Regions from separate parts of the Homo sapiens genome. Here all the other regions are linked to region 3. The links come from fine-mapping of genetic effects on gene expression. A gene starts in region 3. Each other region holds a variant in brackets. All regions are shown on one strand. Distances are from middle to middle.

Region 1 (10,860 bases), 990 kb before region 3:
AAAATTACCTGCAAGGTTACAAAGTTTGTATTAGCCTATTCATAGTGGGAAAAAAAACAGCAATTTTTTCACATTGATATCATATGCACAAAAGTGCATATCTTCAGACATTAGTATTGCAAAAGTAAGTAATAAACATCTGGTAGAAAGTTAACTTACGAGAGAAATACTCGTGGGTTTTTTTTTTTTTTTTTTTTGATACGGAATTTTGCTCTTGTCTCCCAGGCTGGAGGGCAATGGCACGATCTTGGCCCACTGCAACCTCCCATCTCCCAGTTTCAAGCGATTCTCCCACCTAGGCCTCCGGAGTATCTGGGATTACAGGCATGTGCCACCAAGTCCGGCTAATTTTGTATTTTTAGTAGAGATGGGGTTTCACCATGTTAGCCAGGCTGGTCTCGAACTCCTCACCTCAGGTAATCTACCCCACCTTGGCCTCCCAAAGTGCTGAGATTACAGGCATGAGCCACTGCGCCTGGCCAGGTTTTTTTTAAAAAAATATATAAGACAAGATTTCCCTTATTTTTAGCTTATATTTGGGTCAAAGTGTTTTCTGGTTGTTCTTTGACTGTGGAACATGATATTCATACTTAGTATAATGATCGCAAGCAAAGGGTTGTGTTTGCTTCAGGACAGTTGCATATTACAAAGAAGCCAATGTTTTTGGCTTTTCTGTTAAAAAAAAAAATTTTTTTAGCAGGCCGGGCACGGTGACTCACGCCTGTAATCCCAGCACTTTGGGAGGCCAAGGTGGGCGGATCACGAGGTCAGGAGTTCTAGACCAGTCTGACCAATATGGTGAAACCCCATCTCTACTAAAAAATACAAAAATTAGCCAGGCGTGGTGGCACGTGCTTGTAGTCCCAGCTACTCTGGAGGCTGAGGCAGAGAATTGCTTGAACCCAGGAGGCAGAGGTTACAGTGAGCTGAGATCAAGCCACTGCACTCCAGCCTGGGCGACAGAGTGAGACTCTGTCTCAAAAAAAAAAAAAAGTTTAGCAAGTAGACAAAAAGTATCTTAAAGATAATAGAAAAAGTTCTAAATATTTTTAAAAATTTTAAATGTGCCAATTTAAATTATAAATTTCTGTCTGTAGAAAAAGAAGACATCTTTAGACAGAGTTAGAAGGCAACCCACAGAGTGGGAGAAAGTATGGTAACTATCCAACAAAGAATTCACATCTCAAATACATAAAGAGCTCTCCTAAAATCAACAATTAGAAGACATTCATCCTAATTTAAAATTATAGGCCGGACATAATGGCTCACGCCTGCAGAACAGCACTCTGGGAGGCCGAGGCAGGCGGATCACTTGAGGTCAGGATTTCGAGACTTGCCTGGCCAACATGGCAAAACCCCGTCTCTACTAAAAATACAAAAATTAGCTGGGCATGGTGGTGTGTGCCTGTAATCCCAGCTACTCGGGAGGCTGAGGCAGAATCGCTTAAACCCAGGAGGCAGATTTTGCAGTGAGCTGAGATCGAGACACTGCATCCAGCCTAGGAGACAGAGTGAGACTCTGTCTCAAAAAAAAAAAAAAAAAATATTACATTGGTGGGCAGGCACGGTGGCTCACACCTGTAATCCCAGCACTTTGGGAGGCTGAGACAGATGGATCAATTGAGGTCAGGAGTTTGAGACCAACCTGGCCAATGTGGTGAAACCCTGTCTCTACTAAAAATACAAAAATTAGCCAGGCATGGTGCCTGTAGTTCCAGCTACTCGGGAGGCTGAATCAGGAGAATCACTTGAACCTGGGAGGTGGAGGTTGCCGTGAGCCGAGCTTGCACCACTGCACTCCAGCCTGGGTGACAGAGCAAGACTGTCTCAAAAAATAATAAATAAATAAATAAATAAAATTTAAAAATTTATATTGGTTAGAAGACTTAAGAACCCAGGCACAGTAGGTGACGCCTGTAATCCCAGTGATGTGGGAGGATTGTTAGAGCCCAATAGTTTGAGGCTGCAGTGATCTCACCACTGCACTCTAGCCTCTAGCCTGGGTGACAGAGTGAGACCCTATTTCTTAAAAAAACAAACCAAACAAACAAAAAAAGACTCTTCATGTTAGAGAATAAATATCCTGAAAATGTTTTAAATATCTCTTCATATTAGAGAATAAATATTTTGAAAATGTTTTAAAGGAAAGAGAGGACTTCTAGTTTCAGACTAAGATGGAGTAGACACACTCCTCTCTATTCCTCCTGTTAATTGTAGCTTAAAACTTTGCACATTATATGTAATATACATGTTAGGAAATATCTGAAAAGTGGAGCGAAGGCAGCAGACTGCCTAGGGACTTTGGGACACAAAGAGGGACACAGCAGTTTTCTTTTTGCCTTATACGTACCAGACTGGATGCTAGAGAAGATCATAACCTTGAAAACACCAATGGAAGATAAAAGTTTCCCAAAACTTTGCTCTATCAAAAGGATGAGGAAAGAGGCAACACAGTAAGACAGAAAACTTTTCAACTATAACCACCCTACTGCAGCTAAACACCATGGAAAAAATACCACCCTACCACCACCCCTGTCCAAAAAGGCCAAAAGTAGTGGACCTCAGCTTCCACCCTTGTTGAGCTATAACATGGTGTCCTGCCCCTGGGGTGATCAGAGAAGACTGAGTTGGGAGTCAGGACTTTCCTCCCTGCCAGCAGTAAGAAGGCCATGTGGTGGTTCTGAACTTACATACCCACCCAGTAGTAAAGAGGCAACCCTGTTCATTAGAGGAAGCCATGTCAGAACTTTCACCACCATCCAGAGGTAAGGAGGCTTCCTACTCTTGACTATAGAATCAGTGGAGGCCACCTGGCAATCAGTAACAAGGTGCTCCTTCCTTTCCTAGCCAGACTGATGTCAATGGAGGCCTTTGAAGAGGCTGAATTTCCACAGCTGCCCAGATGTCACAAAGCACTTCTGTTTCCCTACCCTGGGTGTCAAAAAGCCTGAGCAGAGAACGTGGACTTTCACCACTACCTGGTAGTGATGAGACTGTGCCCCATTTCCCCTCCACCAGAATTGTGTCAAAGGTGGCCTGCTAAAACAAGATTTGAGTAAGATCTAGAGTGTTATAATAACCAAAATGTCCAGGGTACAATACATGCCCGAAGAACTAGGAAAATCTGAACTTTAATGAAAAAAGACAACATACAGCAACATCAAGATAAAACAGAGGGCCAGGAGCAGTGGCTCCTGCCTATAATCCCAGCATCTTGGGAGGCCAAGGTAGGTGGATCATATGAGGTCAGGAGTTCGGGACCAGCCTGGCCAACATGGTGAAACCCCATCTCTATTAAAAATACAAAAACTAGCTGGGCGTGGTGGTGGGTGCCTGTAATCCCAGCTACTAGGGAGGCAGAGGTAGGAGAATCACTGGAACACGGGAGGTGGATGTGGCAGTGAGCGAGATTGCATCATTGCACTCCAGCTTGGATGACAGAGCGAGACTCTGTCTCAAAAAAAAAAAAAAAAAAAAAAACAAACTTAGCAATTGCAAACATGCCTGAAACAAATGAAAATAGAAAGTCTCAGCAAAGAAATAGAAGATATAAAGAAGAATCATATTGAAAAGTTTAAAATGAGAAGCACAATAACCAGATTCAAGATTCAGTGATGGGCTCAATAGCAACATGAAGAGGACAAGAGGAAAGAATCAGCAAAGTTGCAGCTAGAACAATAGATATGGCCAGGCACCATGGTTCACGCCTGTAATCCCAGCACTTTGGGAGGCTGAGGTGGGTGGATCATGAGGTCAAGAGATCGAGAACATCCTGGCCAACATGGTGTAACCCCGTCTCTACTGAAAATACAAAAAATACAAAAATTAGCTGGGCATGGTGGTGTGTACCTGTAGTCCCAGCTACTGGGGAGGCTGAGGCAGGAGAATTGCTTGAACCCAGGAGGCAGAAGTTGCAGCGAGCCAAGATTGCGCCACTGCTCTCTAGCCTGGAGACAGAGTGGGATTCCATCTCAAACAAACAAACAAAAAACCGAAAAAACAAAGAACAATAGATATTCCTTAATCTGATTAACAGAGACAAAATATGATGAAATCAAATGAACAGAGCCTCAAAGACCTGTGACACTATATCCAGAATCTACAATGAACTCAAACAAATTTACAAGAAAAAAACAAACAACCCCATCAAAAAGTGGGCGAAGGACATGAACAGACACTTCTCAAAAGAAGACATTTATGCAGCCAAAAAACACATGAAGAAATGCTCATCATCACTGGCCATCAGAGAAATGCAAATCAAAACCACTATGAGATATCATCTCACACCAGTTAGAATGGCAATCATTAAAAAGTCAGGAAACAACAGGGGCTGGAGAGGATGTGGAGAAATAGGAACACTTTTACACTGTTGGTGGGACTGTAAACTAGTTCAACCATTGTGGAAGTCAGTGTGGCGATTCCTCAGGGATCTAGAACTAGAAATACCATTTGACCCAGCCATCCCATTACTGGGTATATACCCAAAGGACTATAAATCATGCTGCTATAAAGACACATGCACATGTATGTTTATTGCGGCACTATTCACAATAGCAAAGACTTGGAACCAACCCAAATGTCCAACAATGATAGACTGGATTAAGAAAATGTGGCACATATACACCATGGAATACTATGCAGCCATAAAAAATGATGAGTTCATGTCCTTTGTAGGGACATGGATGAAACTGGAAACCACCATTCTCAGTAAACTATCGCAAGAACAAAAAACCAAACACCGCATATTCTCACTCATAGGTGGGAATTGAACAATGAGATCACATGGACACAGGAAGGGGAATATCACACTCTGGGGACTGTGGTGGGGTCGGGGGAGGGGGGAGGGATAGCATTGGGAGATATACCTAATGCTAGATGACACGTTAGTGGGTGCAGCGCACCAGCATGGCACATGTATACATATGTAACTAACCTGCACAATGTGCACATGTACCCTAAAACTTAGAGTATAATAAAAAAAAAAAAATTAAAAAAAAAAAAAAGATCTAATATTTTTGTCATCAAAGTCCCAGAAAGAGGAGAAAGTGGGTGGGTTTTAAAATAGTGGCTGAATATTTCCCAAATTTGGTAAAAAGCATAAACCTACAGATTCAAGAAGCTGAGAGAACCCCAGCTCAGGAAAGGATAAACCTAAAGAAGTCTACACCAAGACACATTGTAAGTAAACTGAAAAGAGAAGGCAAAAAGTCTTAAAAGCATTGAGAGAGAAAGGATACCTTACCTATGGGGAAAAACAATTGGGAGGACAGTAGATTTTCATCAAGCACCGAGGAGGCCAGAAGGAAGTGGCTTAATGTTTTTCAATTGCTCAACGAACTGTCAGCCCTGTCAGATATCATATATCTGGTAAAATTACCCCTTAGGAATGAGGGGGAAATAAATACATACTAGATGAAGGAAAACTAAGAGAGTTTGTTGCTAGCAGACCTACCCTAAAAGAAGGCTAAAGAAAGTTCCTGGCTGGGTGCAGTGGCTCACGACTGTAATCCCAACACTTTGGGAGACTGAGGCCTGCCAAGCTGAGGCCAGGTGGACAGCTTGAAGCCTGGAGTTCAAGATAACCCTGGGCAATAAAGGGAGGCCTCATTCTCTATTTAAAAAAAGAAAGTCCTGAAACATAAAGGAAATCATCAAAGAAGGAATCTTGGAATATTAGGAAAGAAGGACAACAGGAAAGAGCAAAAATGTGACCAAATACAAGACCGGGTATGTTGACTCACACCCGTAATCCCAACACTTAGGGAGGTTGAAGCCTGTTCTCAAGACCAGTCTGGGCAACATGGCGAGACTCTGTCTCTACAAAAAATAAATTAGCCAGGCGTGGTGTC[G/A]TGTGCCTGTAGTCCTAGTTACTAAGGAGCCTAAGGCAGCAAGATTGCCTGACCCAGGAATTTGAGGTTATTGTGAGCCATGATCAATGCCACTGCACTCCACCCTGGGTGGAGTGAGACCCTGTCTCAAAAAAGAGACAGAATCAGACCCTGTCTCTAAAAAAAAAAAAAGAAAAAAGAAAAAGAAAGAAAAAAAGAAAAGAAAGAAAAAAGAAAGAGAAGGAAGATATATGACCAAATACAATAGTTTTCTTCTTGAATTTTCTAAGTTATGTGTCCATGATTGAAACAAAATATATGATTTGATTCTCAGTGATGTAGAGGAAATATTTAAGACGATTGTAACTGGGGAAAGGTAAAGAGGTTTAAAGGAAGGTAGGATTTTACTTCATTCAAACTGATAAAATGTCAATACCAGTAGACTATGGTAAGTTACATAAGTGTTATGTAAATGTAATAAATAAAGCAATCACGTACAAAAAACATATATAAAGAGATATGCCCTCAATCCCTAGATGTATTCCTTGAAGGTTGGGAATATATCTATATGTGTATATTGATATATATTTACATAACATTAGAGAGATATATAATATATAAAAATGTTTCAGAAATTATTAAAGATATTTTAAAAGTAAATTATTTCTAGGCTAGGGTAGCAAATGATAATGTAAGGAAATTGTAGCCTAGTCTTATGAACGTAGATGCAAAATCCAACAGAAAATACTAGAAAAACAATTCATACCAATTATACATACAGTATAAGAAATTTATAATGCTGAAATTCAATTTCTTCCTTCTTGGCATTTTTGTTATTGTCAGATCTTTTATTTTGACAGATGTTACAAACTCCACACTATATTGTTTTTATTCTAACTTAAATAGACTTTTGAATATATATGTGTATATTTTATTTATTTATTTATTTGTTTGTTTGAAATAGGGTCTTGCTCAGTTGCCCAGGCTGCAGTGCAATGGCACAATCATAGCTCATTGCAGCCTTGAACTCCTGGGCTTAAGTGAGCCTCCCACCTCACCCTCAAAAAGTGCTGGAATTACAGGCGTGAGCCACTGTCCTGCCTTTTTATTGGAACATTTCGTTCATTTATATTTACAGTAGACAGACTTCTAAAACCCTGTTCAATAATTTTCACCTCCTGGTATCCCTGGCTTTGTGTTATCCCCTTCCCATTAGGTGTGGACCGGGGAACTTATGACTTGTTTGTAATGAATCAATAGAACAAAGGGACATCACTTCTGAGACTAGGTTACAAAAGACTGTGACTCCTATCTTGCTGTCATTCTGTTGCTCTTTCTCCTTTGCTTACTTTGATGAGGTCAACTGCCATGTTGTGATTGTCCATATTGTAGTTTCTTATCACTAAGGGTGACTGCTTCTAACAGCCCGTGAGGAACTAATTTTTTTCTTTTTTTTTTGAAAGGGAGTCCCACTTTGTCGCTTAGGCTGGAGTGCAGTGGGGGCAATCTTGGCTCACTGCAACCTCCATCTCCCGGGTTCAAGCGATTCTCCTGCCTTAGCCACCCGAGTAGCTGGGATTACAAGCATGTGCCACCATGCCCAGCTAATTTTTGTATTTTTAGTAGAAATGGGGTTTCACCATGTTTGCCAGGCTGGTCTTGAACTCCTGACCTCAGGTAGTCCGCCCGCCTCAGCCTCCCAAAGTGCTGGAATTACAGGCGTCAGCCACTGCACTTGGCCACTATTTTTATTTTATTTTTATTTTTTGGAGACGGAGTCTCACTCTTGTCGCCCAGGCTGGAGTGCAGTGGCGTGATCTTAGCTCACTGCAATGCTCCGCCTCATGGGTTCAATCAATTCTCTGCCTCAGCCTCCCGAGTACCTGGGATTACAGGCACCCGCCACCACGCCTGGCTAATTTTTTTGTATTTTTTTTAGTAGAGATGGGGTTTCACCATCTTGGCCAGGCTGGTCTTGAACTCCTGACCTTGTGATCTACCTACCTCGGCGTCCCAAAGTGCTGGGATTACAGACGTGAGCCATCGCACCCAGCCTTTTTATTTTTATAGTAAAAATATACTCATAAATACTTTGGAAAAAAAACAAACAGCAAAGTATAAAGATGAAAATTAAAAACCCCACCACCCAGAGATAACCACTTGTAACCTTTTTTTATTACTTAACCTTGATCCTAACTGTATGACATGTGCTAGAAAATATGAAATTATGATCCTAATTTTATGAAGTAAAGTGTTTACGTATGCATTTTATGTATATGCTTATAATGTTCTTTATGATTATACTATATAATGAGCTCTGCTTCTTTTACTCTTTGTTGTATTTTTCTCATAACTAGGTAATATTAGAAAAAACATTTTTAAGGCTACTGGATTATTAACAAAGTAGGAGTACCATCATTTATTTTAACAATTTTTCTATTATTGGCTATTGAGGTTGTTCCCAGTCTTTCACTCTTAGAAATAGCACCGTGATCAATGTCTTTATGTAAATTCCTAGAAATAGAGACACTAGGTCAAAGAGTATAAGTGTTTTGTTTTGTTTTGTTTTGTTTGAGACAAGGTCTCTATAGCCCAGGCTGGAATGCAGTGGTATAATCATGGCTCACTGCAACCTCAACCTCCCTGGCTCAAGTGATCCTCCCACCTTAACCTCCTAAGTAGCTGGGACTACAGGTGTGCCCCACCATGCCTGGTTAATTTTTTGTGTTTTTTGTAGAGACGGGGTTTTGCCATGTTGCCCAGACTGGTCTAAAACTTCTGGGCTCAAGCAATCCACTCACCTTGGCCTCCCAGAGTGCTGGAATTACAGGCATGAGCCGCCTTGCCTGGCCACTAAGGCTCTTGATTAATATTGCCAAATGCCTTTCCAGAAAGGTTGAAGCAATTTATACCACCACCAGCAGTGTATGAGAGTGCCCATTTAATGGAACCCTTGCCAACAATGAGTATTTTTTAAAATTTTGTCTATTTGATTATAAAAATCTTGTTTTAATTTATATTTATTGGATTATAAGTGAGATGGAACTTTTTTTCATAGATTACTGGCTGTTTGTATTTCTTCTTTTGTGAATTTTTTGTTTCCTTGATCGTTATTCTAGAACAGTGCTGAATAGACACCTAATGCAAACTGTGTATGTAATTTTATAATAAATTTTCTTGTGGCCTCATTAAACAAGTAAAAAGAAACAGGTGAAATAAATTTTAATGATAAAATTATTTTAGTAATAAAAAATCTTAATAAAATTTATTTAACTACATACACCCCAAATATTATCATTTCAACATTGGCACTAGCTACATTTCAAGTGCTCTTGTGAGTAGTGGCTACCATATTGGACAGTGCAGATTCAGAACGTTTCCATCATAGTGGAAAGTTCAACTGGACAGCACTAGCATGGAGCTAGAGCTTTTGATATTTTTTTATAAGGAAACTTTATATATTTAGTTTTTGTCTATCCTATTTGTTGTAGTTTTTTCCAGTATGCCGTTAACCTTTTAATTTTGTTTATTCTTTTTATTTACTAATATTCAAACAATATAGGTGGATCTGTCATTCTTTCCCTTTGTTGTCTATTCCATTGTTTTAGGTCTACCTATTCCCAGATAGTTAATTCTTCACCTATATTTTCTTCTGTCCCCCCACCCCCATGTTTTTACAGACAGGGCCTCATTATGTTGCTTAGGCTGGGAGTGCAGTGGCTATTCACAGGCATGATCATAGCACACTACAGCCTCAAACTCCTGGCCACAAGCGATCCTCCTGCCTTGGCCTCCCAAGAAGTTAGGACTACAGTGACACACTACTGAACCAGGCTACCCTAGATTTTTTAATGGCTTCATTTGTAATGCAGTTATTTAATCCTGAAATTTATCACATTATTTTAAAAGTGTACCTGATTTATCAAGAAGCTTACTATGGTTGCATGTCTATCAATTTCTCCTTGGAGTTTGTAAGAGTTTCTATTTTAAGTATTTTGATGCTGTGTTATTTAGTGCATAACAGTTCGGGATTGTTGATCATTGTAAAGGACTATGATTCTCCTGGTCCTTTGTAGTAGTTTTTATTTTGACTCTACTTTATTTGAAATTAATATTGTCACCCCTGGTTTGGGTGGCAGTATTTCCCTAAGAAATCATTGCCCAAGCTTTAATTTTTAACCTTCCAATTTTATTTTGCATATACTTTTGTAATTATTGTTTTTGTGTGTGTGTGTGTGTGTGTGTGTTTGTGTTTTTTTTTTTTTTTTGAGACAAAGTCTCACTCTGTCTCCCAGGCTGGAGTGCCAGTGGCATGATCTTGGCTCATTGTAACCTCCACCTCCCAAGTTCAAGTGATTCTCCTGCCTCAGCCTCCTGAGGTAGCTAGGATTACAGACGTCTGCCACCATGCCAAGCTAATTTTACAATTTTAGTAGAGATGGAGTTTCACCATGTTGGCCAGGCTGGTCTCGAATTCCTGGCCTCAAGTGATTCACCCACCTCAGCCTTCCAAAGTGCTGGGATTACAGGCGTGAGCCACTGCACCCAGCCTTTTGTAATTATTTTTGTAACTGTGATTTAATCTTAACTCTGTTAAATTGATTTTTTTTCTTATTGCTGGTCCTTTTATATGTCAATTTCTCCCATTTTTGAGTTGTTATTTTTTATATCACTTAGACTGCTGATATATGCCTTCAATAATTACTTTCAAATACATATCTTATAGTCAGTATTCAATAAATATTGCCTGCATAAAATAATAAATGAATGAATGAAGGAAGGAAGGATGTTAAGCCTTTACACATCATAGAATGTCTTTCTGTTCTGTGGTAAAAAGCGTATGACTTTTTGTTTTATGAAAAGTCTACTTTTTACTCTTGAATGATGGTCTCATGTCTCTCTCTTTTTTTTTCAACAAACAATTTTTTAGCTTTTTTTTTCTTTTAAACATTTAAACATTTTACCAGGATATGTCTAGGTTTTGGTTTCTTTACATTGATTTTACCAGGAAAAGAATGAAACTTTTAATCTT
Region 2 (10,860 bases), 28 kb before region 3:
ATTAGGCTAGTGGAAGAAGCTAGACTCAAAGGCTACATGTTGCCTGTAATTCCAGCACTTTGGGAGGCCAACAAAGGTGGGTGGATCACTTGAGGTCAGGAGTTCAAGACCAGCCTGGCCAACCTGGCGAAACCTCATCTCTGCTAACAATGCAAAAATTAGCTGGGCATGGTGCGGGTGCCTGTAATCCCGGCTACGCAGGAGGCTGAGGTAGGAGAATCTCTTGAACCCAGGGGGCAGAAGTTGCAGTGAGCTGAGATCGTGCCACTGCACTCCAGCCTGGGTGACAGAGCAGGAGTCTGTCTCAAAAAAAAAAAAAAAAAAAAAAAAAAAAGAAAAGGAAAAAAAAAAAGAAAAGAAAAGGAAAAAAAAAAAGAAAAGAAAAGGAAAAAAAATGGCTACATGCTTCTGATTTAGCTTAGATGATATTTTGACAAAGACAAAACAAAGGCAAAACAAAGACAAAATAGTAGGAACAAAATACAGATCAGAGTTTGCCGGGGCTATGAAAAGGGGAAGGGATTGACTATGAAGTGGCAACATGAGAGAATGTTTTGGGGGTGATGGAACTCTTCTGTATCTTGATGTTGGTAGTGGTTATACAACTCTACACATTTGTCAAAACTCATAGAAATGTACAACAAAAAATGAATTTTATTGTGTGTAAGTTAAGCCAATTTTTAAAATTAGGGAGACAGAAAAAAGTTAAAGATTGTTTTATAAAAGCATTCATATCTTTGATAATAATATTAATTAAAATTAGCTATGTATATGGTTTCCACTAAGTAGGTAAAATAATGCATACTTCTTAGGTTTATCAACTTTAAAATTCATAAATCCATAAGAAAACAAGTTAAAGAAGAGGTTAAAAAAAGAGCTTTCTATTTACTTGGATGAAACATTAGTTCTGTCTAGGGTTATGAGTTCTTTCCTCTTTCTTTCCTGTCTTTTCCACTCTTCCCAGTGTTCCCATGTGGCTGCCTGCAGATTTTTAGCACTAAGAGAAGTTTGTCATATGGATCTTCATTTATCAGGCTTTGAATAGCATAATGGAATGCTTTTAGCAGCATAGCAGAGCAGGCAGAGATATTCTTCATATGACAGACTCTTCCCTGGATCATCAATGAAAGTCAAGAGTCTAACACTAAAATCATGTCTCTGTGAAGGAATTTCTATCATAATCTAAAGCAAAATGGTCCATGATGTAGCTTTCTGGGGCTCTGTCTTGATCCAGGAATAGAACTTAGAGAAACTCACATTCCTAGGCTCTTTCTCTTGAATACCATGATTTTAGCCAAGTTTCTGGGGAGAGGTAAAGCTTAGAGAGCCCAAAGTGAACATCCCTAGCAGGTACAGTAAAAACTCTCCTACCCAGTTTACCAAGACAGGTAATTGGGTGGTTAAAAATTCAACGCTAACTATATATCTTAAACTTATTTTAAATTGAGACACATAATTATACATTGACCTACCAGTCTTCTGGTGATAGCCTAAACCAAGCTTGTAACCCGCGGACAAGGGCTACAAGTGACCCAGGAAGGCTTTGAATGTGGCCCAACACAAATTTGTAAACTTTCTTAAAACATTATGAGATTTATTTTTGCGATTTTTATTTTTAGCTCATCAGCTATCATTAGTGTTAATATTTTGTGTGTGGCCCAAGAGAATTCTTTCAACATGGCCCAGGGAAGCCAAAAGATTGGACACCCCTGGACTAAGACCTTCTCTTTGAGTATGAATCCACTGGTTGGAGTTCTTCATCTGGCAAGAACCATACTCATTATACATCATCTCCACTTGATCTTAGCCAAAAGGCTGAGAAGCGACACATAAAACATCATCTCCAATTTCCAGTTTTAATTTCTTTAAAGTCTAGAAGAAACTTGAAGATACTTGCAATGCACACCTAGTGCAGAATCATTCTGGAATTTTATGATTATTTGTCACAGTCTTTTATAGTTACCTTGGCCACACCAAATTTGATAGCATTTTTTTTTCTTACTAGCTCATCAAATTAATTTTTATGTTAACAGCTCTTTTTTCCCTCCTATTTCATCAAATCACCTAATCAAAATGTGGCAAAAACAGGTTTGGAAACCAGCATAGCTGACTCTTGGTAAGCATACAACTGAATGGGTGGGTCAGAAGTCCATATCTGGTACTAGAAGTAGCTTGCTAAACAAGGCATTAGTCAATAGGTTTCACAGAGGGAATGGAAAGTTTCCCTTAATCCAGTGACTCACGTAAGTGAAGGTCAGTTAAAAGAATACCTTTAGCACCTGAAATGTAGGTATTCTATGTTATTGATACATTTTGTTTTGAAAGTAATGTCTGTGATTTGCACACTGAATTGCAGGGATACATGTAAATAGGATGAAGATTTTCATCCTATAAGAACAACTATTACTGTTACTAAAGGTATTTGGATTTTTTATTGTGAACGCGTGCGACAATAAACACCATAAGGAACATAATCACCCTAGTTAACATAATTTCTTTTTCTTTATGCTCCCTGACCTGAGATATCTGATGCTCATTGGATTTCTCACATAGTCCCTCTCAGAATTTCCCATATGCTCTCCACTTCCTCACTGTACTCACAAGCTCTTGCTCCCAGTTGAAGTTTGTCTACAGAAATCAGAAATATCTTCCCTTTACTGGTACGGCTATGGGCTTCTGTCTTCAAACTCAGCCCTGCCCCAATATCATGAGCTACTTTTTGTCTGTTCCTTGATGTTTAATGAGGATATTACCTACCCAAAGAGACTTCTGGACTTCAGTTCTGAAAGTCCTGCTACACAGGGCAAGACTACTGTATTTTGACTTTGAGAGTGACAAATTATCCTTCTGTGCAAAATACAGACTTAAATTGGCACCTGTAGAGTAATTTATTTCCATCACAATTGTACCCCCAAGGGCTTGTCTACATAGACACCCCAGACAACTAAGTCTTTTCAAGACTTTCTGTGTTACCCATTTTGATTCCCAAGACTTTCTTCCAATAAAGTAGATTTTTACCTTTTTCAAAGCTGATATTAAGCTGCTCCTTTGACAATAACTGGCCAAATATTCCGTTGCTTCTTGAGGTCATAATCTAAAAGATATTGGCAGGACCATTTAATCTCCATAAAGGAGGATGTATGTCTTCCTGTCTGCTATGGAAGGAGAGTGAAAATCTAGTTCAGCTAAAAGCTATTTGAATTTATTCAGGTTTTAAGTTGAATAGGAATGTGAGAAAGTGTTACTTTGTGCTACTTAAAATTGAAGCTCTCTATGTTGGATAACCTTTCCTGTCATTTAATAATCAACCTTTCTTTCTTTCTTTATAGGCATTTTAAGGGGATCATATATTTTTCTCTTTGATTATTTATGATGGTTAGCTGAAGAGGTGGGGCTGGGAGGGAGCATCTTTCCAGAAGTTATTCCTGCATGGGGTGAGAGCAGAGCTAATCCTCTCCTTAGCATTCATTCATGTTTCAAGTTTCTTGTAGCCATTAGGTCAAACACGGGATGCACTGAGTATATTTAAGCTGAGATCAGGCATCTAGTGTATACACTTGTTCTTTAAGAAGAAAAATGTGCATACTTTAATAGATCTGTATATTCAGAGGTCTAGATCAGGATAGGGAATAAGTACATGTTTCCATGAAGAGCAGAAGCTCTTGGTAGATGGGCCAATAGCCACTGCCTCCACGTCCTCACATCTCACTTTCTCTTCAGCCCTCCAATCCAGACTTCTGTTCCCAGTGCTCCTCTGGCTGCTCATGTCAAGGTCACCAAGAACCTCTCTCACAAAATTCACTGGTCCCTCTGTCCTTATCTTACTGGACATTTCAGCAGCATTGGCAAAACTGTCTCACCTTCCATCTGAGACAGTTTTTCTCTTGACACCCAGGGCCCTATCACCCTAAATCCCTGGCCCCTACTCAGTCGCCTTTGCTGGATCTTCCTTTTCTTCCTAGGTTTTAAGAGAGCACCTCAGTGCCCAGCCCCTAGCTCTCCTTTGTTTTCTATCTACATCATCTCCCTACATGAACTCATCCAGTCCGAAAGTTTTAAATACCACCTCTATGCCAGTGCCTTCCATATTTAAATTTATAGCCCTGACCTTTCTTTTGAGCTCCAGATTTGTCCTAATGGACATTATCTTTTAATGGGTATTAATGGATGCTGAAAGGAATCACCAAGTTATTATGTTCAAACACAGCTTTTGATTTTTTGCTCTCTCATCTGCCAAAGGGTACCTCACCTAGACCTCCCTGTTTCATGGCACAGCACCACCATCAAATCAGTTACTCAGACCGACTTGTTTCTGATTCTCCCCTTTCCCTCATCCTCATCACTGCCCCTCCAAGCTGCAACCCTTCTGCAAATTCTGCTGGTCTTACCTCTAAACAGTTGCTTACCTCTAAAACAAGCAACTATTACCCAAGGGACGAATTCCTCTATTGCCCTGTACAGTCTTTTCTTACACATCTTAAAAACATAAATCTCATCCTCCAGTGGCTTTTCACTGCATTTTAAATCAAATCCACTCTTTCTTGTGACCTAGCGAGGCCCTGACAGGCTGGTTGCTAACTCCTTCCTGACCTTGTCTTGTCCTGCTTTCCTGCCTCTCACCACAC[TCC/C]AGTCTGTCAGGCTCTGGAACTAGCCAAGTTCGTTCCTGCCTCAGGGTCTTTGCATTCACTCCTCCTTCTGCCTGGCATGCTCTGCCCCAGATCTTCGCATGGCTGGCTCCTTTACCATTCAGATCTCACCCCAAATGTCATCTTCCCAAAAAGGACTTTCCTGGGTACCTGAATCAGCTGCTCTTTTCCTCCACCCACAGATGCAGCACACTTGCTCTCATATTATCCTTTTTCTATTACTGTCCTTATACACATCCCACTTTTGTAATAATCTTGTTTATTTATTTGCTTTCTTATTTATCATATGTCCCCTCTGGCAGAAATAAATTTCACAAGTGTAAGTCATGTCTGCTTTATTTCCTGGGGTATCCCCAGTGCCTGGTACATAGTAGGTACTCAATACATCTTTGTTGAAGGAATAATTGTAGAATAAATAGTTGTAGCTTAGAAATAGACATGAGGTGGGGAGGGAGAAGGTTGGCATAACGTTTAAACTTCTAACGGAGTTTTACTTCACTGTATCAAAATACAAAGAGGCATAAAGCTTTGAATGTATGTGAAATTGTTGTTAAAATCTGGGTCTCTTGTACATACTTTATTTATGGAAGAAAAATATGAGGTGATGATCTTTATGTTTAATTCCTCATCCTGCCACTTTCTAGGGCAGGGGTTCATAACTTTTTTTGTCCATTGGGATCACCTCAGGGGCAGGGCTTCGATCCCACCCCCCAGGTGGTCCCAATTGATGTGGGTCGTGGCCTGAGCATTAGGAGTTTTAAAGATTTACAGGTGATTTTAGTATGCAGAAAAACTTAAGAACTCGTGTTCTGGGAGATATTTATGGAACTCATGAAATATGCTTTCCAAAGCTCATGTAGTCTGGGAAATAGAGCCATTTACCTGAAGATCTAGCATTAGAGTCTTCAAAGCTTCTTATTCATTAGTATAGACAGGGACAGGGCCTAACTCATTCTGGCTGAGTTTGAGTATCACCAACCACATCAGTCTCTCTCAGCTCTAGATGTTTCAGGAGCAAAGAGAAGAGAATTTCTGAATGCAGGTGGAAGATGAAGGTCCACTCAAGAGGGAAGAAATGAAGGGACTACCTAGGTGGTCCAACTGAGAAGCTGGTATGGTCATCACCTGGGCCATAGCAAGAGGGAAGAGTTCTCAGGGGTGGCATCCAGAAGCTGTTTGGCAGAAAGGGAGATGGACTGGTAACAACAGCCTGGTGTGAGCAATGCCCTCGGAAATGAAGGCACAAGAGTGGCAGTCCAGATTCCAATCAGTATGTGTATATTGATGAGGCTGTGAGGTAAGTGGGCCAGAGGCACAGAGCTGCAAACAATACTGAAGGGGTAGTGTGATTATGCTAGGGATTCAGGCTGCAGCATGGGCTGACTCAGCAGTGAATGTGGGACAGGCCCTCCGCTACCCAAATACACTAGAGAAGAATGGCCTGAAAAGGGGGTTGGGGGTGTGTGGGGGCAACAGACTCCACAAATAATATGAGAGGTGGGGGCTCAAGTCATTTTACTTGGGTACTAAATGTAAGGGTAGTTTCCAGGAACTGAAGAATTTAGAGAAACTTTTGTTTCATTATTTATAGAGGTTTTTAGCAGCTGATGCTTTTACTTTCACCAGGAAGTAGAAAACTAGATCATCATTCTTTTTACTTATTGTTTTTAAAAGGAAATGGCTTTCCAAATACCTAAAAAAGCAAACATAGGTGCTCCTACATTCAACTTCCAGAAACAAAAGGTTATTATTTTGACACTTGAAACGGTATTTACACAATTTCTCCTAAGAATAAATGCTCTTTCTAAAGCCTATTCTGCCTCTCTACACTTTGCAGATTAAGCCTCATTGTTCTACGGGGCTCTTCTGTTTGGGTTTATGAAAACAGACACTGGGCTGATACAACCCAGGTACAGCTCCAGGAAAAAAAAAAAAAGGATATTACAACAAATTGTGGTGGTGCTTGCACTATTCAGAAAAAGATTTAAGCAATGATAACATCAAGTCATTGTTTAGCTCTTCCCATATACGGCTCCAGTTCAGTTTTTATCATCCAAATTAGTCCAACTTTAAGTATAAATCTGTCTTTGGTGAGCACCTTCTTTTTCATTTTCTGAAAGACAGTAAGCATGCCAAAAAGACTTATGAAACGAAATCTTTCAAGACCTAAGATTCTGTCTAAAAATAGCACTTCCCGATAAGCAATGAGCAATTTTTATTCTTTACTTGTGCTTGTATGCACATAGCAAAAGAGAGAGGGGGAAAAAAAAACTAGCAGGTAGGAAACTAAAGGATAGAGCAGGAGGGGAATTTCCAAGATGATGAAAAATTTTAACATTGTTTAAACATATTAGTAAATATGCTACTCCAATGTTATTAATAAAGGAGTTCTCTAAATTACCTAAATACCCTATGTTGTTTGAAAAATTCTCTCTAATTCTTGCATAGCAACATACGCTCAAAATCATGTGAGAACAAGCCTACCATACATGTGCACAAACAAGATTTTTTTCAGGATCTGTGAATTTTTATCTTCATTTTCCCAGAAGCAGATGCTGGAAACCTCAGTGCCTAGGACACAGAAAAGTGCATAATAAATGTAGGCTGAACCAATGAATGAGTGAATGAATGAATGAACAAACGAATAAGGAGCATATTTCCATACTGTGCCCTAGAATGGCTGTGACCTTATTGCATGGGGTGACTTCTTCACGGACTGCAGCTAGATTAGAAAATGAATGAGTGTAATCCCACAGACCTCCTAATTTGGAAGATGTCGAACAACAAACTCCCCAGGTGCAAGTTTTGTATTTTTTTTTCTCAGTGTGCAGATTGATTGAGTCTCCAATGACTCTGTTATTTACCACAGATTTTTAAAATTAAGATTGAATAAAGTATTCTTTTTAAAATAGCTTGTAATTTCCTTGGAAGCCTCTCTTACAAGATTTTCTAATACTGCAGAAAAATAGAAGGACGTATAGTTTTGAAACACTGTTCTGCAGGAGCCATTTTTTTAGTTGTCTTACATTCAATCCTTCTTCCTATTGAGGGACTCCCCATTATTGATGGTATTGAGGGTGTACAATGTCCACTATAGAAGAAGTGTCTTTCCATGGGGAGAGTATTTCCTCTCCTACTCCCTGCAACCAGGAAGCTGCACATGACCAACTGGGTTTTCGTACCAGAGCTTTGAAGCTGGAGTGTTTGACCCAAGAGGAAGGGATAATTAGGATTCATTTAGGGCAGCAGCATCCATCAGTGGTGTTGGCTAGGGCAACATCCTGGCCAGCCTGTCTCAGCTATGTAGACTGTGCATTCTCCTTGGTTTGTGTCCATTTTCCAACCCCTTTTCTCTTGTTTCCCCATGTGATTATAATGGTTCCCTTTGCATTATTTGGAATAATGATTCCAATAAATTATTCTACTTAATAAATATATCTGGAGCCACCTGCTCTTGCTTGCAAAAAAAAAAGAAAAAACCCTACTGACACATCTCCTGAATTACTGATTAATAACAGAGCTAAGTCTATTCTTGGCAGTTATAAGTAAAATGAAGGGAAAAGCAAAAATTATAAATAACCTAATACACTTGAACCACATTTAGACATGATTTGTACTTCCAGTCATGGCACAGTGGAAAGTATAGTGGCCTTTGAATCAGGGGGATATAAGTTCAAGCACTGACACTAGCATTTATTGCCTTTGTGACCTTGAGCAAGACACTTAATCTTTGTGAGCCTTCATTTCCTCGTCTATTACACAAGAATAAAAATATCACACAGGTATGTTCCAAGGACAATGTGAGATTATTTTTATCACGAAAGCACTTTTAAATCTTGAAGCTATTTTTGTCATTCTAGGCCAATAATATCTCTTCTATATAATCTCATTTTGTATGCAATCTACATTCATTACATATTTCCTACTTTCTTTTTCAGATAAACCTGGGAGATGAAATACTTCTGGCTTCAAATTCTAGTTTTTAAAAGGCCCCTATGTCATTACTTCCAATGTGAGCAATACAGTTAAAGTATGTTGTAAAGATGAGTAGATAAGTTTTTTTTCTCAATTTGAAAGCCAAGTTTACATTTGACCCGACTATCTCACTCTCCTAATGACGGGTGCATGCACACAGAGCAGTTCAGACCACAGCTCCTGACCTGGTGATCCTTCAAAGATACCATCTGAACACTTTGGCTTCTACTAAAAATTAATGTGGTTGAAACATATTTTCCTGGTTTATTGATGTCACCTGGTATGGAAATGGTATAGAAGTCCTGAAGTATAGAAGTATAGAATTGGTATAAAAGTCCAGCCCGTGGAGGTTCTTAAGTAGCCATAAATGGAAGTTTTCTGGCCATGTGATGCAGGAACACAACTAAAGGAAGGTTGTGAAAACTGAAGCAGAGATACAGAGAATGGGAGATGACATGAAGCTAGAACAGCAAGGATCCAGAATCTGGTCACTTGTCTTGGTGAAAGAGAAAGGGAGACAGCCCTTCTTGGAGGCTATACTTGTTCAAATAGATCCCTTGTCTATGCCAGTGGTTCTCAAACTTGTCTGCATATCAGAAACACCTGGAGGTATTTTAAAAATTCTGGAACCCAGGCCATGCCCCAGACCAAGAAAATCAGAATCTCTGAGGGTAGGACCCAGACATTGGCATTTTTTTAGGCTCCCCAGGCGATTCCAATGGGCATCACAAGCTTGGTAACCACTGGTTTGTATTGTTCTCATAACCTTTTTATTTCAGTAAACCCTGTGATCTGAAACCAACAATATCTTAGAGTTTCTTTTCTCCCATTCCTGTACCCAGTCCTGGTTCTCTTGGATCTTGAGCCTGACAAAAAGCCAAGATACAGTCATTATATGAGGTGAATATTCTATATCATTTTGAAAACATTTCTAAAGGCCTAATCACTTTTATAACAGAAAAATACTTGCTTTAAACCCAAAGTCATTTCCTTTATCAGCAGCTCGTCATTTCTCTAAGGCATTCTTTCTGAAATGAAATATTCTATTTTTGGTGTCAGACCTTGGACTATTTTTAAACACTTGAAATAATTCTCTTTTTTTGGTATTAAAATGGCAAAAAAGTACATTTTTCTAATCAAAATATAACCTCCCAAACTATTTTTATTCTATCCCAGATTGTTAAAGCTAAAATCTATAAGTTTTTATAATTCTCTTTTTCTGAATTACAATAAAAGTGTTATCAATGCCGCAAGTATTTTTGGTTAAGGAATATTGGAATACGTTGTAATAATAATAATAGCTGGCCTGTATTGAATACTTCTTATGTGTTCTATGTTTTGCTTAGTTCCTTACCTATATCACATCATTTAATTCTCATGGCAACCCAGTGAAATTGGTGCCATTATTATCCTCCCTCCCACTTTTTTTTTTTTTTTTTTTTTTTTTTTGAGATGGAGTCTTGCTCTGTCGCCCAGGCTGGAGTGCAATGGTGCAATCTTGGCTCACTGCAACTTCTGCCTCCCGGGTTCAAGCGATTCTCCTGCCGCAGCCTCCTGAGTAGCTGGGATTACAGGCTCGCATCACCACACCCAGCTAATTTTTGTATTTTAGTAAAGACGGGGTTTCACCATGTTGGCCAGGCTGGTCTCGAACACCTGACCTCAGGTGATCTGCCCACCTCGGCCTCCCAAAGTGCTGGGATTACAGGCCTGAGCCACTGCACCCGGCCTATCCTTCCTTTTTCAGGGGTGGAAACTCAGGCTCACAGGGGATAATTCTCTGAAGTCACATGTTTGTTAAGTAGCTGTTACGGCATGTGTGAGTGAATGAAAATTTATTGAACAATTGTGTGCTTAAATGTGACCTAATCTTTTTCACTGATGTCTCTTATTTTATCTTCATAACCACCAATACACCAGGCAAAAAATATCACAGGATGCTCTAGGGAAGAAAAACGGATCAAGAGCCTTCTCTCCTGGCTCCCTGGCCTCCTGACTTTCTCACTTCTGCTTCCTCTCTCATTATTCTCTCCAATGAAATGAGGGCAGCCCCGCCAGGACCCAGAACAAATACTGCAGGAGAAATGCCTTCTCCGTCTTCTCCCTAGATCTTCGGTCTTCAAATCAGGAAGATGAACAAGTCTAAGGTTAGTACATTTTTGTAGGTAACCTAGAGGACAAGCAAAGCAGCCAGTTTTTGCATATATCTTCGTAATAAATATAAAAGCTAAAGCTCTAC
Region 3 (10,860 bases):
ACCCTGTCCACCTTCAATCCTGTCTACCTCCTGTGGCCCCAAAGCCAGCTGGTAGACCAGGAAGTGGGAGTCTGTATTGGTAGAAAATGAATAAATTCACTTACTCCTTCAAGTCCTGCCTTTCCCACACTTGTATTCCTACACAGAGCAAAGAATTGGTGCTTAAGCAATAGCCATGAGGCAGGTGTCTTGAGGAATGCATGGGGAGCCAAGTATTACTTTTCCTCCACCCTATAGCTCATACCCCTTCATTAAAAGCTACATATGTAGAAAATAATAAAGTTGACAAAAAACCAAGTGTTAATCACGGTGATGATGACAATACCTTTCTAAAAAACAATTATTGAGGTATACTTTATATGCCATAAAATTAGCTCATTATTAGTTACAATTCAATGACTTTTAGTAAATATACAGTATTGTATAACCATCACCATAGTCCAATTCTGGAACATTTCCATCATCCCAAAAAGATTTCTCGAGCTCATCTGTAGTCTCTACCTGCTCTCGCCTCCAGTCCTAGGTAACCACTAATCTACTTTCTGTCTCTATAGATTTGCTTTTCCTGGGCATTTCACATGAATGGAATCATATGACATGTGATGTTTTGTGGCTGGCTTCTTTCAGTTGGCATACTCTTTTTAAGGTTAGTTTATATTTTATCATGTATCCTTTATACGTAACACCTTTTTGAATGGCAGCATTATATAGAGGAAAAAGCATGAAAATCAGAAGCATGCAAACATGGGGCTGAATCAAAGCTGTGTCACTTCTTAGCTGTGTGACTTTGGGCAAGTTCCTCAATCTCTCTAGACCTATTTGTAGAATAAGAATAATAATCCCTCCCTCAGCTGAAAGGAAATAGCTGGGTTGTGATGACAAATAGTGGGCGCGCAAGAAATCCAGTTCTTCTCTCTAAATTTCGCCAAAAACCTTTGCTTTTCTCACTCCTGCTTCAAACTTTAAAGTGACTCCTACAGCCTCCCTACCAGCCTTCACATCAAGCTTGAAACAAGAACCCACATAACAAATGATATCAGAAACGGAATTCCGCCAAAGGGAATCACATCCTTCATTAACGGAGCCCAGATGGTGAGGAACTAAAGGGATTTCCTTCAATTATATTGCTGTCATTTTTTATAACGAATGTTAAATTGCATTTAATTATTATTGTAAGGGGGGAAATGTGTCAAGTTCTATCCTAGAATATTTTATGGAGTTGGTTTTCCTTTGGCAAGGCTCTAAGAACATCTTATTTTCCCACTAATTCTTATAAAACTGCCCCCATTAACATCAACACACAGATAACATGCAAACAAGTAGCAAAGAGCTAAAAACACCAGAGTAAATAAAATCCACCTCAAGCCAGGTACCATGGTGCATTCTTGTAGTCCCAGCTACTCTGGAGCCTGAGGCGGGAGGATTACTTGAGTGCAGAAGTTTAAGACCAGCCGGGGTAACATAGCTATAATACCTCTCAAAGAAAAAAAAAATCCACCTGAAATCCTCCAAACTCAACTTTTAGTCAATAGTTTCAGACCTTTTCTTTCCTGAACCTTCAGAAGACCCTGAATTTTGTGTGTGTCGCAAAATAGACTGAATCGAACTCCTTGTTCATTCCTCCAGCCCACCATCTCTGATTAGAACATGTTCTCATTTTGAGTTCCAACTCAGAGGGATCCTAAATGCAATCCCATCCTATAATCTAGGACACAAAGTTTACAGAGTTGCTACTCCTTAGCCTTGAGAGAAAATTTCCTGTCCTAAATCTGCTTTTCCTTTTGAATTACTGTTTATCTGTACTTCTAAATTTACCAGTGCTCCTTCACATTTCTGATTTTTTTTTTCTGTCTCTCTCCTTGTCTGAGATTTATCACAGCTGTATTTCTTCACCAAACTCCTGAACCACTTAATTCCCCTCCATTTCCCGGATTTACTTCTTGTTAAGAATAGTATAAGAGTTAAAACAGAAAAGGATAAGGCTTCTCAATATTTTTACTAAATAAAATATGGTTATAACATATTTTGTTTATCCCTCTCTTCAAGGAGATGAGTACAGCATATCATTTTTCATGATATAAAATGCCTGTGGTCAAATGTAAAGTAATTATTAACAGAGGCAGTATATGGCTTTCCAATCTTTATAAACTTTATAATCACTATACATATTATTGGAATTAAAGATGGCAAACAGTGATTCTTTCAAATAGGTAAATTAGATATACTTCCTACAAGTGATCAGCTTGTAACATTATCAGGTGAGTCTAATTTGAACTTCTGCTGCGATAAAGCTATACTCACATAGATAAACAGGTAAATACTATATCCAGACTGAACAAAGCACTTAAATTAATGTATTGATGTATTTGTATAAGGATTCCTGTGTTTCCTTGCTCTAAGTACTTATCTTGAAAATAGGAACTGTTAACAAAATCCATGGCTAACTTTTTCCCCAATATTAAGAGATGAAAGAAAGTGTAGGTAGGGTCCCAAGAGAGAAGTTTTCACATACTGAATTATCTCCTAATACAGGCTAGAAAAACGATAAATCTGATGAAAATAAATAAAAATTTGGGGGACAAAATCATGTTAGGTTTATTGAGATATGTGAATTTCCCCAATCTTTAAAAACTGTTCTTATGCTAAAACTTACCCCTTCCTATCACCACAGTGAAGAGAGTAATTTATATCTAAGACCTTATTTTAGGGATTTTATTTTAGGCGGTATCATAGGAATTTATCTCATGGTATAAATAGTTTAGTAAATCTGGGATTTGGGAAAGAGTTTTTCTCTACAGCACAGGCCTTTTGTTCAGCAGCAGATGACAAAATAATTTTGAGGCAAGATGATTTAACTTCAGTTTGATGTCCAGCCATCCACCCCAAATCTTATGCTCCAAATTCCAGAATGTGGCCAGAGTATTGAAAATTAAGTTTTTAAAAAATCATTTGATCCAAATCTTCTAAATATATATACATATATGCAAGAATGACACAGCCTTCAAATTATGGTTTGGCCTATAGTTTGTGTATAGCTCTCTAGAGAATTTCGATCTTAAGGTTAAAATCTCAAATATGTGGAGATCATGTCTGAGGACTTGACTACCATAAAATTCTGTCAGCATCCATGCATCATGTATATGGATTACCAAATAATGCCGAGTCTCCTACCCTGAGATGGCAGCCAATTTTTGGTGTGCCTGACGGGCCATTTCACAGCCTTTGGTTCTTGTCTTGTGCATTTCCGCCCGGAGTGAGGGGCAGCTGACCGAGACATCCCCAATAGAAATGACCAGCTCTCGGTACAGGGCCACTTGTGTGTTGAACTCTTGGACAAGCTGGAAAAGAAGTGAGTTTTTTTTTTTTTACCAAACATTTCTCATCAGAAAGTTTCCTGTTTCGGAGTACATAAACAGGGGCTTTCACTGACCCCTGAGTCAGCTCCCCAGATCTCCAGCTAAGGAACCTAGGAATTGTTTAAAGCAGAAGGCACCAAAATGGCAAGTCTCTTTGTCCAAGGCAAGTATTTATTTCCATAGGCAAGCCTGGCCATGGAAGCTCTATTTCCAGACCTACTTCCCCTCACCCTTTCAGACTCAGTTTCTGAAGAGCAAGAGAGCATATTTGGAGCGCTACCATGCCACTCCCAGGCCAACAGAGAATGATGCTGGGGACTCCTACATAGACGGTCCCCTCTCCTACTGCTAGGACATGGCTTTTAAGTTGCACGGCGGGAGGGGCGGGGGAGGCGACAGGTAGGGTGTAATAGGCAAACCATTCACCTTTTGCTGGGCCACTGAACCTCTCGGCCTGACGGCCTGACGGGAAGACCAGCTACAGCCTCTGCGCTGGAACCTTCGACCCCTCCGCAGCGCCCCGTGCGCTGTATTTGGGTTTGTTTGCTACTCTGTCCCCAGAAAGCAGCATCCCCACCTCCTCATCCCTCCCTCCTCCGTGAGCGAGCCAGTTCACTGTGTCTTTCGCATCCACCATTCTTCGAGGGGGTACAGGCACAACCTACAGCCGCTGATCCCCAAGACCCTTGCTGTCACACTTCTTTCTGCAGGGTTATTACGACCAGGGTGTCACCCTGAATTTGGGGGACTGCAGATTTAAAAATAGTGCATGTGCCACGTGATCGGCATTGAGGAGCTGAGGGTGGGGGAGTGGCTGGCACTCAGGCAAATGATTAACATACATGACTCCCCCCACCCCCTCTCAATTAAAAAAAAAAAAAAAGAGGCGCAGTTTTCACCCACCATCTTGCAGTCGTCCAGGGCTCGTTGGGTTTTGTGGGCGCTCTCGGAGCCGCTGCCCCTGCGCTCCCAATCTCCGCTCTGCAGCGGGGGCTTGCTGATCTGGAAGATCGAGGAGCGGGTGGACCGGCTGGGGCGCTTTTTGCGCCCATTCGGTGCAGAACTCATGCATACACATCCACCAAGCCGAAGCCGCTGGTGCAGTGCGCCCCGGCGCGGGCGGCCCGGTTGTTGCCCTGGGCGCCGCCGCCAAGCAGCCGGAGCCCGGACCTGAGGCGCGCAGCTCACAGTGCTGGGGCTGGCTGCGCGGGTCGGTAACCTTCAGCTTGAAGGAGAGCCGGGGAAGCGCTAGCTGTGCCGTGCAGCATCGCTTCCACTAGCAGCGAGGAAGGAGCGCGATCAAGTTCTGCTCAGCAGCATTGCCGACCCTGTCCCGGGAGCTGGGCGCTGGCGCGGGCTCGCACTGCCTTCCTCTCGGCATGGATTGCAAGGCTGGGCGAGAAGGAACGCGCCGCCCGGCGGTTCCGAGTTTCCATTCAGGTGGGGGAGCAGCTTTCAAAGCCTGCGCTGCAAGGTGGGGGGCGGAAAGGGGTGTCGCTCTTGCTTCAGTGTCTTCCCGCAGCGGCACTCGGTTCGTCTTTCCCCTCCCTCCACTGTCGCCAGGCCTGGAAGGACTGGCCGTCCCCAAAGCAAGCAATTGGCTCTAATCGGCTGCCTTGATCCCTCGTCTCTAAGGGCTTGTCTGTTTGAAGATCCCAGATGAATCTGTGGCGGGACTGGCAGACGCAGAGAATCGGTCCGGCTGACGTTGTTCGCGGGCCCGCACATTGATAGGACGGGAATACTAATGTGATCTGTCCATGCAACCCCCTTCCCCCTCCACAGTTTATGCACTTATCCAATCAAATCCCCGGGAACATCAATTGCAATATTACTTCATCTGCTCTATTATTAGAAACGAAAAGTGTCATCAGAGTGGAGCACATGCCACATGCTGGGACCTAAACATGGATTTCAAATAAGCCAGTGTGGGCTTGAGGCCCTCACCAACTGAGACTGAGACAGGGGCCACAGGAGGGAGTGAGGTTTTGCTCCAAATGGAAGACCTCTTGATAACCTAAAAGGAGAGCTTTGTTTCCCTGAGTTGTTTTGTTTTTATTTTGTCCTTGTTCATGGAGGGGGAAAGAGGAGAGCCAGTGAGGCAGAATGCACAGAGGCATTCACTCAGATTGGGCCTCATCCCCATCCCATTTCAAGTAGTAAAGCTCTTGGTCTTGCATTGCAGGGTCTCAGGACTCAGCTCCTAGAGTTCCCTTCCGGAGACTTGAACAAATAAGAGCCAAGAGATCTCCCTGGACACTCAAAATGACCTTCTTCTCACTTATGGGATATCAGTAACCCAGAGGCCAACAGAGGTGGCCCAGAAAATCGGGGATGATTCTTGTGTGAAAGGAGTGGGGGTGAGGCCCTCAGCCATTTAAGTTCACCCTTCCCACTGACATCTTCCTAAGGTTCTTCTGGGAGGAAGAGAGAGTGTTGTGGCATTCAACTCTAAGGCTCTAAGGATGCTTGTTCTCCTGAATGATTTGTTTGGAGAGGGAGATAAAGGGGTCTCCCATAGGAAAACTAGTTATGTATTAGTAATCCTAATAAGAACAGATTAGAGGTTCCTGGTCAGTCTGTTAAAGGGATATGGAGAGTACATAGAAAGAGAAAGCCTGAAATAGCCAGGAAGGTTAATATCCTAAGGAGGGTGGCTTTACAACCTTTTCTACAAGACAAGTAAATATAATGGGGTACTATAATAAGAGAGTTATTTGGTCTTTGTCCCCAGTCCCTAGGGCAGAACTCCTAAAACCCTTAGAAATTGCCTGAGTTATTATGATAAGCCATCTTGTCACCAGAAAGACCAAGCCTTGATTAGTTGCTTGCAACTTTCAGCCTCATCCCCCAATCTCAGGGGATAGGAGAGGAGCTAGTGACTGCGTTCCTCACCAATGGCCAATTATTTAATCAATCATGCCTACATAAAGAAACCTCTGTAAAACTCCTAAACAACAATAGAGTGTGGGGAGCTTCTGGGTTGTGGAAGACATCTAGGTGCTGGAAGGGTGGTACACCAGGAAAGAGCATGGAAGTTCCATGTCCTTTTCCCATACCTTGCCCTATGTTTCTCTTCCAGTTGGCTGCTCCTCAGTTGTATCCTTTAGAATAGACTGCTAATAGTAAGTAAAGCTCTTTCCTGAGTGCTGTGAGTCATTCTAGTGAATTACCAAATCTGAGAAGGTGGTTATAGGAACCCCTGAATTTGTCGCCAAGATGGAGAGAAGAGTTGGTAACCTGTGGATCCCATACTTGTGACTGGCCTCTGAGATGAGGGCAGTCTTGTGGGACTGAGCCCTTAAACCTGTAAATCTGACGTTAACTCTGGGTAGTTAGTGCCAGAAATGAGTTGTAGGCCACCTAATTGGTGTTAGAGAGTTGGAGAAGTGCTATTGGAAAAGACATCATGTATTTGGGTGGGAAGGAAAAAAAACCTAACAGATGGATCACTGAGTGGATATTTGGCTACATTTTTTTTTTTTCTGAGTCAGGGTCTTGCTCCGTCACCCAGATTGGAATTTAGTGACACCATGAGAGCTCACTTCAGCCTCAACTTCCTGGGCTCAGGTGATCCTCCCACTTCAGCCTCCCAAGTAGTTGAGACTACAGGCACATGCCACCTAATATTTTGTAAAGACAGAGTTTTGCCATGTTGCCCAGGCTGGTCTTGAACTCCTGAGCTCAAGTAATCCACACACCTTCACCTGCCAAAGTGCTGGGATTACAGGTGTGAGCCACTGCGCCTGACCAGAACTTCACACAAGCTTGAGAGTGAGTTTTCCCTATCAAAGACTAGAGAAAGGAGGCATCAGCTCTCAGGCCCAGACCTTGGTGTGCTGCTATCCTCCAGGTGTTTAGATGTCCCAGAGACTGAGAGAAAGGGCTCTTCTGCTGGTTGAATCTCCCCAAATATAAGAAGATAACAGGTTAGTGCTTAGTCAGCTCCCTGACCCTTTCTCTTTCCTGCAATCTCAATTACCTCCCCTCCCTTCCTCCCTCCCTCCTTTTTTTCCTTCCTTCCTTCCCTCCTTCCTTCCTTCCTTCCTTCCTTCCTTCCTTCCTTTTTTCCTTCCTTCCTTCCTCTCTCTCTTCCTTCTCTCTCTCTTTCTTTCATTCTTTTGTTCATTCGTTCATTCTACGGAGTCTCACTCTGTTTCCCAGGCTGTAGTGCAGACTTCTGAGTAGTTCCACAGACATGCCTGAGTTGGCCGCTCCTGAGTTGTATTCTTTAGAATAGACTGGTAATAGTAAGAAAAGCTCTTTCCTGAGTGCTGTGTCATTCTAGTGAATTACCAAATCTGAGAAGGAGGTTGTAGGAACCCCTTCCTACAACCTGAGCTGAGTGGACCACAGGCACGTGCCACCACACCCGGCTAACTTTTGTATTTTTAGTAGAGACAAGGTTTCACAATGTTGGCCAGGCTGGTCTCAAACTCCTGACCTCAGGTGATCTGCCTGCCTCAGCCTCCCAAAGTGCTGGGATTGCAGGCATGAGGCTCTGTGCCCAGCCCCAATTTTCTTTCTACTTAACGCGTGTAAAGAGAGAAGCAGAAAAACACATCAGGTGCCTGGGGTTTTGTGAGGGGTGAGGATGCTTGGGATGATGAAGAGGAAGATAACAGAGAGACTGAGGGGCTTTAAAGAAGGATCGATAATATTCATTTGTAGATGGTTTAAGTCCTGTGTTATAAACCTCTTTCACTGTCACTAGCTTACCCCTGCACTCTCCACCCAACTTTCAGGAAAAGTCTGCTATAACCCATTGTTGGTGGTGCTTTGGAGAACTAAGGGAAAAGGGGCTACCTTTTACATGTGTGTGCACATGGGTTGAAGAGGATAGGACACTGGAGATCAGTCTGCTGGAAATCTTTTTCCATGGCTCTGTTGATTCATCCCCTTTTCCTGTGAGGAAATAGCCACTTCTACCAGATTTGAGCGTCTTAAACCTACTCAGTAGTAGGTTTCTACTCCAGTTACAACCATCTGGTTTCTAACCCCCACCTCCCTTCTTCTGCCTAGAGACAATTTCAACAAATTAAAAGAAAAAAAGGCAATATAATTGCACTGCCCTATTTCTATGCCATATTTCTTGCAGGAGCTGGGGGGCAGGGGTGGGGGATGGAATGAATAGGTCAAATGCAATGCCACGTCTGAAAGACTACTGACTTGGGAACCTGCTGGGGGATTAAGCGGAAATTTCACTCGTAGGTGCCCCTTGGCCTTCCCTGATACACAGCCCAAGCCATTTTCCTGAGAAGGGAGAAAAATAGCATCAATCTCAGAGCTGTCTCTCCCAGCCAGCGACAAATGCTGTAATCAGAATAGCAGCAGGCAGGCTTAGTTTCCTAACCTTCCCCCACATTCAAAACTGCATGAATTTACATTCCTGAGGCTGTCTGACTGCCAAGTAGAAGGGTAAAGTGTAGTTGGAAATCTCAACAACAGGCACATATTTTGATTACCCAGACCCGATTTTGGCACATGCCTGATCATTGGTCACCTATAGGTATATGGCTTTGACAAGAGTCACATCCTAGATTCACTCCAATATAAGATATACCTTACATTTTGTGTTCTCTCTGTGATAGTTTTGAGAATTCATTTTGATTTGAAATTTTAAGAAACATCAGAGAACATCAGTTTAGAATGAATATGAGCAATTGCTGAGTTTCTTCAAATTGGTTCTGTAGGGAACCGTAGTGGGACCCAGAAATGAACACTTCATAATGGATTGGCCTCTCATGAGAGGTGATAGTAGGAGGCAGGTTTCATCTGGGAATAAAGTTCAGAGAAGTGAAAAAAAGGGGGGGCCCTTACATGAGTGGGTCTCTGATAGAGGCAGAGAAAAATACATTAAGATTCTGAATTCCAGAAGCTAGGGAGATCTGAAGGGCATGATCAAGTTATTTTTTTGTTAGTGTCAAAAGATAAGAGATAAAGTTATTCTGAAGAACTTAGTGAATAAACTATCTAACAGATGGTTTCTTTCTGCTAAAAGCATAAGAGGGTGCAATATGTTGGGAACATTTATTTATTAATTTCACAAATATTTTTGGGTATTCTTGTTAGGGACAGATCCAGGTTTTGTTGGTCTTGAAGCTTATACAATTTGGGAGCCCCTCTTAAAGAAAAAGAACACAAAAATTTAAATACAAGATGAGATACATTGTCTTAGAAGGAGCTTATGCAAGTGAGGTTCCCTGAAGTTTAGGCTTCATGAAATTCACGGTAAATTTCAACCTTGGAGTGTTTCTTGTGTGCATAATGGGCATCTAGTGTTTTGCTTGCTCAATTTTTATTCTCCCTTTTCTGATGATAGCACCTTAAATTTCCTATGAGAAATCAGTCCTCTCTCACTTTTTGCCCACATGGCTCTGTGCATGGGCATATGATTCAGGACTGACCAATACAAATACTGTATCTCAGTGGCCACAATGACTGGTTTAATAATGGTTATGAAATCTAAGTTGGACCAAAGAACTTTAGCATTGGGACTTTTTCTGGAACTATTAGGTTGAAAGATATGAAATTGCCATTATTCAACCATTTTGACCTACATAAATAGCAATTTTATATATTTCAACCTAATATTTAGTTTTTTTTCTTTCCATTGGGTTGGTAAACTGGTAAGATGAAAGCTGGAATTTCTGGTGGCCATTTTTGCCATTCATAGTCAACAGACTGCCTGAGATCTAACCCAGAGGATCAGAATGGAGAGATGGAGAGATATTGATTCTTAATTATATTATTTGAGTTTGTAGATCCATCTCTGCCTTAAGTCAAACTATACCTGCAATTTCATTTAGGTGGACCAAAAAATTTCCTTTCAAATTAAGTCAGTTTTATTTGGATTACTACCACTTGCAACCAAAAGAGTCTTGATTAATATAATATGTAAAGAATAATTGTGAAAAAGTATAGGATACATCAAATCAATCCATCTAATACTTATTGAATGTTTACTATGAGCAAGGTACTACATTAATGACAAAGAGAAGATATAATAAGAGTAAAGATATAATTCTTTTTAAGGCACTTATACCTGGGAGATAAAATATACAGACAAGAAACCACTAAGAACAATAAAATATGTAATAGTGTTACTTTCTGCTACATATAAATACTGCAGGAATTTAGAGATGAGATCAATCTCTGTATGCTGAGGTTACTAGAAAAGGCTACATGATAGAGATGGAACCTGAGATAGGCATTGATGTATATGTATACAGGATTGGGATAGGTGGAGGAGTGTGGGACAGCTTTTCAGTGGTTGGCTAAGAGCAGGAGTAAGGGAGTAAAGAATGGAGGGCATGAAGAGTCAGACCTGAATTGAAGATAAATAGGAGAGGCCATTGTGAAAGTGTTGTGGGTGAGGTCACAAAAGCAGGACAAATGATCTGGTTCCTTTGGTTTAGGAAAGGAAGAAGGACAGTACATTAGCAGCAGAGAAAACCTAACAATTTTCTTTGGATGACAATAATGTACATGATTTGAGGCTGCA

Direction of the effects. Positions count from the first base shown, and alleles are read on the strand shown. Sizes are in standard deviations (SD) of each study's normalised expression.
For the expression in vagina of the gene that starts at base 5,034 in region 3, allele A in region 1 goes with a lower level than allele G (large effect, 1.0 SD a copy in GTEx).
For the expression in unexposed skin of the gene that starts at base 5,034 in region 3, allele C in region 2 goes with a higher level than allele TCC (large effect, 1.0 SD a copy in GTEx).

Evidence for each region. PIP is the estimated chance that this variant, and not a neighbour inherited with it, causes the effect.
Region 1: its variant is fine-mapped to the expression of RGS7BP in vagina (GTEx, PIP above 0.99).
Region 2: its variant is fine-mapped to the expression of RGS7BP in unexposed skin (GTEx, PIP above 0.99). The same link has a PIP of 0.9 or more in minor salivary gland and sun-exposed skin.

The regions. Positions count from the first base shown.
Region 1 is chr5:65,493,795-65,504,654 of GRCh38, reverse strand. It overlaps a transcript of CENPK not described here. Among named protein-coding and RNA genes, the nearest start is that of ADAMTS6, 17 kb to the right of the region's middle. The variant G/A (reference allele first, on the strand shown) is at 5,850.
Region 2 is chr5:64,528,021-64,538,880 of GRCh38, reverse strand. The region is part of intron 2 of RGS7BP (regulator of G protein signaling 7 binding protein); the gene reads right to left. Among named protein-coding and RNA genes, the nearest start is that of RGS7BP, 27 kb to the right of the region's middle. The variant TCC/C (reference allele first, on the strand shown) is at 4,626.
Region 3 is chr5:64,500,189-64,511,048 of GRCh38, reverse strand. It overlaps RGS7BP (regulator of G protein signaling 7 binding protein), which reads right to left and starts at 5,034. Exons shown (of 6, transcript NM_001029875.3): 1 at 4,260-5,034; 2 at 3,172-3,338. The coding sequence starts at 4,424.